Linked DNA regions of Homo sapiens: all the other regions are linked to region 1. Evidence: fine-mapped expression QTL. A gene starts in region 1. Each other region holds a variant in brackets. All regions are shown on one strand. Distances are from middle to middle.

Region 1 (2,760 bases):
ACATCTTTGGGGTGAAGAAGAGATGGAGGGAGCAAAGCTGCCAAAGACCTCCTGTGACATTTCCACTAGTATCCACCTATAAGTAAGTGCTGGACTATGATTCCCTGGGGAGATCAGTGGCTCTAAAGACAGGCCCCTGGGCTCTTTCCTGGCTCTGACTCAGCTTCAAACCTGCCGTGCAACTGCTCAGAGTCTAAATGTCTTCATTTATGGAACTGAAATAATCCTGCTAAGATTACTTTCTTTGCTTCGTGATGTTTGCCTGAGAATAAGTAGCTGGGACTACAGGCGTGTGCCACCACGCCCATCTAATTTTTGTATTTTTTGCAGAGACAGGGTCTCACCTTGTTACCCAGGCTGGTCTCGAACTCCTGGGCTTAAGCAATCTGCCCACTTTGGCTTCCCAAAGTTCTGGGATTACAGGTGTGAACCATCACACTCGGCTAAAATGTTTTGAAAAATGGAAACATTGTACAAATGTGAGATGTTGTGCAACATGTCACTGAAACACGGTGGTATAAGAGAAGTTTTGGGAACCAGCAGACCAGAATTAGGCCTGAGAAAATCTTACAGTAAGCAGACCAGAATTAGGCCGTCTGAGAAAATCTTACAGTAAGCAGACCAGAATTAGGCCTGTCTGACAAAATCTTACAGTAAGCAGGCCATCTTCCCAGGCCTTCTCTTTTCTCCAGATAATGAAGAAGGCTTTTTAAAAGCAAAGCCAACTTGATTTGTTAATTGATCATCCAACTTCTTAACTGTCTTTTTCTCATGGTAAAATACCGAGAACATTGTGGGTGAGGAGCAAGTCGGGAGGTGGAACCCACCCCCGCACCCTGCCTCCAATAGATTGTATGTGTGGGTCGCTATTGCTGGGACCCACGAAGGCTGTGGATTGAGGACACAGGGTAGAAGTGGGATCTTCTGCAGGTCAGTGTCAGATGTGTCTGTGTGATGTAGTCATGGGAGAGGCGCGAGTCTTGGGCGGGTGTATCTTAGGGGTGTGGAAGTGTCTGCAAGGGCCTCCGTGGTATGTCATCACATTATTTATATCATGGGCATGACCCTGAACGTTCACCCGAGAGTGGTGAGAGAAAGGCCAGGATTTAAATCAGTCTTGACAGCGCAGATGAAGTTTGTTATTGTTTTCCGCCCTTCCCGAGGGACTTCGGAAATGGCCCCCTGAGAGGTGAATTCTTGGAAAGAATATGAGGGCGGTTAAGGCGTCTCTGTCTCAAACTCTCCGGATTTTTTGCAGCTACCAGGGACTGCGAGGGTCTGCGTCCTGGGTGGAAGGAAGCGGCGTCAGTCAACTTCCTCGCAGCGGCGGCAGCGGCGCGGGCTGCAGCGGAGCGCGCGGGTCTGCGCATCCCGCCCCCGGGTCGGGAAGGGGCGGAGCTGGGCGTCACCCGCCCCCGGCGGTCTCCTCCTCCCGGCCGCTCCCCCGAGCCGAGCCCGCCGCGGTCACAGCCACCCGCGGGAAGCTCGTGGCCGGGACCCCGAGGCGGGAGCGCGGGCTGGGCCGGGCTGGGCTACGCGCACGGGCTCGGCCGCCGCCCCTGCCGGTGAGTCCCGCCGCGGGAGGCGCGGAACGGGTCGAGTTGGGTATTGGGACCGCGAGGTCGGGGAGCCCCGGGGCCCGAGCTCGGGAGGCGGGGACGTCAGGATCGCGGCGTTGGGGAGTCCTCGCACCCCGAGCTCAGAGGGGAGGTCCAGAGTCGCAGCGTTGGGAACCTGAGGCCAGGGGCCGGAGTTTAGGGCCCCGATGTTGAGTCTCCGAATCCAAGCCCGGAAGGGGGGACGACGGGTTAGGATGCTGGGGAGCCCTGGAGCTCTGAACGGCTGTAGTGGGGTGGCCAGGACTGCGATGCTGGGGAGTCATGGAGCCTGAGCCTGGAGAGCTGGCGGGGGTGTGGGGACCGCGATGTTGGGAAGGCTGAGCCCGGAGGGCGGGAGATTCAGGACCAAGACGTGGGGGAGTCCGACAGGGCAGAACGAGGGGCGTCCTGTCCGCATTTGTGGGGCGCCCTCCGCAGGGCGGAGGGGAACGGAACCTGGGAGGGGAGTGCGGAGGAGAGGAAGCCCGGGGCGGTAGGGAGAGCCCGAGGAAGGGCAGCCCGAGGTAGGGGAACCCCGGAAAGAGTAGGGTGGGTCTAGGCATGTGCTTTCGCCGGGGAAAGATGGAGGGGGCTTCTCTGAGAGGGTGGGCGCGAGGAGCGGAGTTGTGATGGGAACCGCCGGCAGCTGGCTAATGGGCGGATGCTGGGGCTTGGCTGGATGGGAACGCCGCGGTGGGGTGTCGGAGGTGGCTGGTGGGGCTGGAACGCTGGGAACGTCTGTCTAGGCTATGAGAACGCAGCGCCCTCGGTGGAACAGGGTCGTAGATAACTCGAGAGGGAATCTAGTCTAGGGAGCAAGACCGGGCATCCCCAGACGGAGGCGGGTGGGGACCTCGCACTCAGCGCGCTTGGGGAATATTCGGAGCCTGGGTTTGGGGGCTGCTGCACCTTGCCGACCCGGTGCGGGGACCTGGAGGTAGCCGGGCACAGCAGCTTCCTGTGCAGCTGTGGGTGCTCCAGGCACTGGCAGACTAGTGGGAAGTCCAGGAGCCTTGGCAGGCTCATTGTCTTGACCTAAGTTGCATTCCATATTTCTTAGCTGGGTTAGAAATGATTTTGTCCAGGAACCCAATGAGAAGAGCCTGGGCTAAAAAAATTAGTTATGGAGTGAGATTTCAAATGTACAGGTAATACCTACCCG
Region 2 (2,760 bases), 28 kb before region 1:
GGGGAGGAAGCCATATTGCAGGTGGTTGAGGAGAGTCTTCCATTTTATTTGGACTTAATTTTTTTGAGACAGGTCTCGCTCTGTGGCCCAGGCTGGAGTGCAGTGGCGTGATCTCGGTTCATTGCAACCTCCACCTCCCGGGTTCAAGCAATTCTCTGCCTCAGCCTCCTGAGTAGTTGGGATTACAGGCACACACCACCACGCCCGGCTAATTTTTGTATGTTTAGTAGAGATGGTGTTTCACCATGTTGGCCAGGCTGGTCTTGATCTCCTGACCTTGTGATCGATCCGCCTTAGCCTCCCAAAGTGCTGGGATTACAGGAGTGAGCCACCACGCCCCACGTGGACTCAATTTATGAAGTAAGAGTCAGGTGCTGACTACATGATGTGAGAGGTACAGGAAGGTTTTTACATTTCCTATTACTGTGCCTAGAAGCCTACATGGTGGCCCAATCAGGAGGTAGGAATTTTTCTTCTGTCGTCATCTATTAAAGGGGCTCTAGCCCCAACTCTGCCACTGGGAGTTCTGTGAAATAGTTCTCTGAAATTCCATTTTAAAAGAGAAAAAGTTCTTTAGAAAATGGGCATATGGCTAGGTGCAGCTGCTCACACCTGCAATTCCGGCACGTTGGGAGGCCAAGGTGGGAGAATTGCTTGAGCCCAGGAGTTTAAGACCAGCCTGGGCAACATAGCAAGACGCTATCTCTAAAAAAAAATACAAAAATTAGCCGGGTATGGTGATGTATACCTGTAGTCCCCACTACTCAGAAGGCTGAGGTGGGAGGATTGCTTGAGCTAAAGAGGTCGAGGCTGCAGTGAGCTAGGATTGAGCCACTGCACTCCAGCCTGGGCAATGGAGTGACACCCCGTCTCAAGAAAGAAAGAAAGAAAGAGAGAAAGAGAGAAAGAGAGAAAGAGAGAAAGAGAGAAAGAGAGAAAGAGAGAGAGAGAGAGAGAGAGAGAGAGAGAAGGAAGGAAGGAAGGAAGGAAGGAAGGAAGGAAGGAAGGAAGGAAGGAGAGAGAGAGAGAGAGAGAAAGAAGGAAGGAAGGAAGGAAGGAAGGAAGGAGAAAGAAAGAAAGAAAAAGAAAGAAAGAAAGAAAGAAAGAAAGAAAGAAAGAAAGAAAGAAAGAAAGAAAGAAAAGACAAAGAAAACAGGCATACTAATACCTGTCCTGCCTTCTGCACAGGCAGAATGGTGAAAGAGATAAGAGCACAGGATTTGGACTTGGTCAGACCCAGGCTTTAATCCTGATTTTGCCGCTAGTTAGCTGTGTGACCTTGGGCAAGTTATGTATACCTAGCTTTCTCCTCTGGAAATTAGGGATAAGAGTATCAGCTTCACAGTGATTATGACGATTAGTTGAGGTATGTAAGGCATTCAGCACAGTGACTGGCAGGTAGCAAGCTCTCAGAAGATGACAGTTAATTTCATAAGTGGTCCAAAATACCTTTTGGGAGATAATGCTCACGAGTGTTTTATTCACAGGGTTGCTGGCCAAATGAGAAAATGCACAGGAAAGCAAAATGTAACAGGCCTATCAGGATGAAAACACTGTGAGAAAGGTCACACATTAAACCACAAATGTT[T/C]TGGGTTCCTTGACAACTAGATTGTGCTACAGAGTTGGTAGGGTAGGGAGGAAGAGGAGAAGCTGAACTTCAACTGCTGCAGTTTTTCCTGGGGCTGGCCCTTGTTAGAATAATAGACACTCTACCATAGAGAGGCAGTTGATTCACCTATACCTGTTGGATAAAAAAGAAAACCATGTGGCTGGTGGAGCTGAGAAAGTGGAAAGAATAAAGGGAGCAGAAGATATATTGCTTGAAATCAGGCAAAAGTTCCATATATCAAAAGCCTCATTCTGGCTGACTTCATCACCAAACTCCCCTCCCAGAGGCCTCTGCCTGGGCTTTTGCAGAAAACATGTACAAACTCTATGCAAAGTAAGAATCCAAAATAGCTTATTTAGAAATAAACCACCTGCTTGTACAAACAGGAAGATCTGAAATCCCTGGAGTTGGGCAAGTGAGTTCCTTGCTTCCCTGCCTAGCCCAGCCTCCTACTGGACCCCCACTACCACAAAGGGATGGAATTACACTCCTTTCTCTCCAGCCTCTTTGCTTTGCTTTTTCCTTTTATTTTTAGTTGTCATGTAATAATTGTACAAATTGATGGGATATGGAGTGCTATTTCTTTTTCTTTTTTTTTTTGAGATGGAGTCTCGCTCTTTCACCCAGGCTGGAGTGCAGTGGTGCAATCTCAGCTCACTGCAACCTCCGCCTCCCGGGTTCAAGCGATTCTCCTGCCTCAGCCTCCTGAGTAGCTGTGACTACAGGCACGCATCACCATGCCCAGCTAATTTTTTGTATTTTTAGTAGAGACGGGGTTTCACAATGTTAGCCAGGTTGGTCTCAATCTCCTGACCTTGTGATCAGCCTGCCTCAGCCTCCCAAAGTGCTGGGATTACAGGCGTGAGCCACCGCACCCAGCTGGAGTGCTATTTTAATACATGCATACAATGAGTAATGATCAAATCAGGGTAATTAGCATATCATCACTTCAAACACTTACCATTTCTTTGTGTTGTGAACATTCAAAATCATCTTGTAGCTTTTTGAGAATATACAATAAATTATAATTAACCACATTCGCAAAGCACCAGAACTCTCACCCTCCTCCCCTCCCTCACCCACCCTTCCCAGCCTCTAATACTCACAATTCTACTCTCTACTTCCATGGGCTCAAAAAATTTATTTTATCT
Region 3 (2,760 bases), 29 kb after region 1:
AGAGTGTACTGTTGTCACTGCAGAAGAGTTAATGTTTAATTGCTAGGGAACACAGCTTTCTTTATATGGTGCTCCAAACTCTAGCTCGATTTGTTATCTGATTTTCTGCTGTGGAAAGGGCATTTCCAAGATTGATTTCCTGCCAGTGGAAATGAGCAGCTCTCTTCACGTTCACCCGGGTTGGCCCGGGTCCCAGCTGGTTTGCAGATCAGTGATGAAGCTTCCTGCCGGTGAGAAGCTAGATCTAGTTGAGAGGTTGCCTGACTGAAGCCAAACCACACCTAACGAAGCCGATAGTTACACTCATGTAGAAAGTCCAGGGAGACACCTGTCCCTAGGCTTTAATTAGTGGGAGTTTCAGACAGCAAAGTTTACCTTTACTCAAACAAGAAGCCTCAGAAGAACATGATCTTCACACCTGAACTGTTGATTGCCTGGAGACTGCTCAGTGTGTTCTCCCAGTAAATTGTTCCCAGCTCCTCTGACTTCTCCCACTCGACAGATTAAACACAGATACTATTTATTCCATGTGGCAGATGCATTCTCTGTCTGTAATGATGCATTTTGAAACCAGTACTTTCTCAAGTGAGATTAGCTGAGATGTGGAAAGTATAGGAAGTGACAGAACAGACAGAAATTCTAGCTAGAGGGTTCTAGTTAGATAAAGAGAAAAAGGCACTCAGAGGAAATTTGCTCTGCTCATCTTTCCCAGGGCACAGCAACAAATTAAGGCTGTCTTTTCTTTCTCCTCTTAGGAATATTATAGGGCACCACAGAGGAAAAGATTCATAAGTGGAGAGCTCACTGAGCCCAGAAGGACACATCTTGCTGCCAGATCTGTGGCAAAAAGGTGTACCTTACTTTTTTTTTATAGGCACGGTTCAGCCGTACCACAAACCCACATGGTCAGGAAGTGACTCACGTATTAATGCCGTTTGAGTTTGTGTGCTGTGGGGAAGGTCTTTTGACAATATTGTGTATACTGGCTTTTCCAATCTAAGAGAACATCTTTGCTGCATTAACAGTAGATGTTACATATTTTTTTCCCTTTAAACCCCCCATGACCAATAGCTTACCCTATGGCAAGTATAGTTAGGTTACTCGTAATAATTAATTTGGTATGCTAACTAGTTGAGCTCACAGAAAAATGCAAGTATGGGTGTATTCCTTTATAATGCTGGGGTGTTTCTTGGGGAGGGTCTTAATATTTTACCAACTTAGGTTTTACCAATTTTTGCATATTTATGTCAAATATTCCTATTTGCAGAGTAGTACTAACTTTTGCTTTCCAATTACAAAAGTAGTAAATGTTTGTTGTTAAAAAGTACGATAATGATAGTATTTCCAGAAGAAAAGTAAAATTCCCCACAATCCCTTCATGGCAATAGCTATATTGTTTTGATTATATGCACTTCCATACTTCATCTGTACCATGTTTGTATGATTACAAAAATAGGGCTGGGCGGAACACATACTTTAAATTTGTTTTTTCCTTTACATGTCTTTGACTCATTTATTCATTCAAGAAATCTTTTTTGAGAA[T/C]GTACAATGTGCTAGTCCATCACTTTTCTAAGTGCAGTGGAGACTACAGTGAAAAACCAATGGAGCTCACATATCATGTGTATCTTTGTATAACAATAAATGTAAATATGCTAGTTATTTTAATAAGTGCATAGTATTCTATTTTATAGATTTATCTTAATTTACACAATCAAATACTCCATTTTTGGATGTCGAAATTCTGTTTGTTAGGTTTTGTTAAATATAGGGAGGAAATATGCACTGACCATTGGTGAATCTGAATCGATGTTCAAATGATCTCTGCTAATAACAGGATTGCACTGGTAGTGCCATTCTTTCAAATATGACTTTACAAATAGTGATATGCTCCTTGGAAGATGTAGCTATAAAGATCAGTATGAGCCCAGAGTTCTCTCACTTAACGACTATGGAGATCCTGAGGCATGTGAGACTGTTTCCAACTCCACCTCTGGCTCAAAGGCTGCTTAAAGCACAGTTCCAGTCCTTATAAATGGACACCAAGTTGTCATTTTGGCTGCTATTCCTTTGCAGCCATTTATAATTATGCAGTGATGTGTGAAGCTGGGCTTCTGTGAATTCTGGAAGCATTTCTTTTGCCTTTGATAGGAATTGCTGCTCATTTGTCCTCTATCCAACAACCAGCAGGTCACTTTCCTACCATCTGTGTGAGTCCCACACACAGTGACATGAAGTGATGTCACAGGATCTGTTTGTTGGTGATTCCAGCATGCTGCTTGATGTTCAGTACAAAGCAAAACATAGCCCAGATGAATTACAGAATTTTACAGTATTAGAGCTTATATAGATTACACCCCCATCTTAAGGACAAGGGCACCAAGGCATAGAGAGGTTGAATAATTTGCTTAAAAATCACTTAGAGCACTTTGGGAGGCCTAGGCGGGCAGATTGCCTGAGCTCAGGAGTTCGAGACCAGCCTGGGCAACACGGTGAAACCCCGTCTCTACTAAAATGCAAAAAAAACTAGCTGGGTGTGGCAGTGTGCGCCCTTAGTCCCAACTACTCGGGAGGCTGAGGCGGGAGAATTGCTTGAACCCAGGAGGCGGAGGTTACAATGAGGCAAGATCGCGCCACTGCATTCCAGCCTGGGTGACAGAGCGAGACTCCATCTCAAAAAAAAAAAAAAAAGTGTCACATAGTGATAGAGCTAGAACTAAACATTGGGACTTCTAATTTCTTGCCCAGTGTTCTTTCCAGGGA

Evidence for each region. PIP is the estimated chance that this variant, and not a neighbour inherited with it, causes the effect.
Region 2: its variant is fine-mapped to the expression of PAQR8 in NK cells (Gilchrist 2021, PIP 0.95).
Region 3: its variant is fine-mapped to the expression of PAQR8 in whole blood (TOPMed, PIP above 0.99).

Annotation. Positions count from the first base shown.
Region 1 is chr6:52,360,685-52,363,444 of GRCh38, forward strand. It overlaps PAQR8 (progestin and adipoQ receptor family member 8), which reads left to right and starts at 1,467. Exons shown (of 2, transcript NM_133367.5): 1 at 1,467-1,565. RefSeq lists silencers at 871-1,056, 1,230-1,719.
Region 2 is chr6:52,332,416-52,335,175 of GRCh38, forward strand. No RefSeq gene overlaps it. Among named protein-coding and RNA genes, the nearest start is that of PAQR8, 28 kb to the right of the region's middle. The variant T/C (reference allele first, on the strand shown) is at 1,589.
Region 3 is chr6:52,389,672-52,392,431 of GRCh38, forward strand. All of the region lies in intron 1 of PAQR8 (progestin and adipoQ receptor family member 8), which reads left to right. Among named protein-coding and RNA genes, the nearest start is that of PAQR8, 29 kb to the left of the region's middle. RefSeq lists enhancers at 1-1,743, 385-594. The variant T/C (reference allele first, on the strand shown) is at 1,543.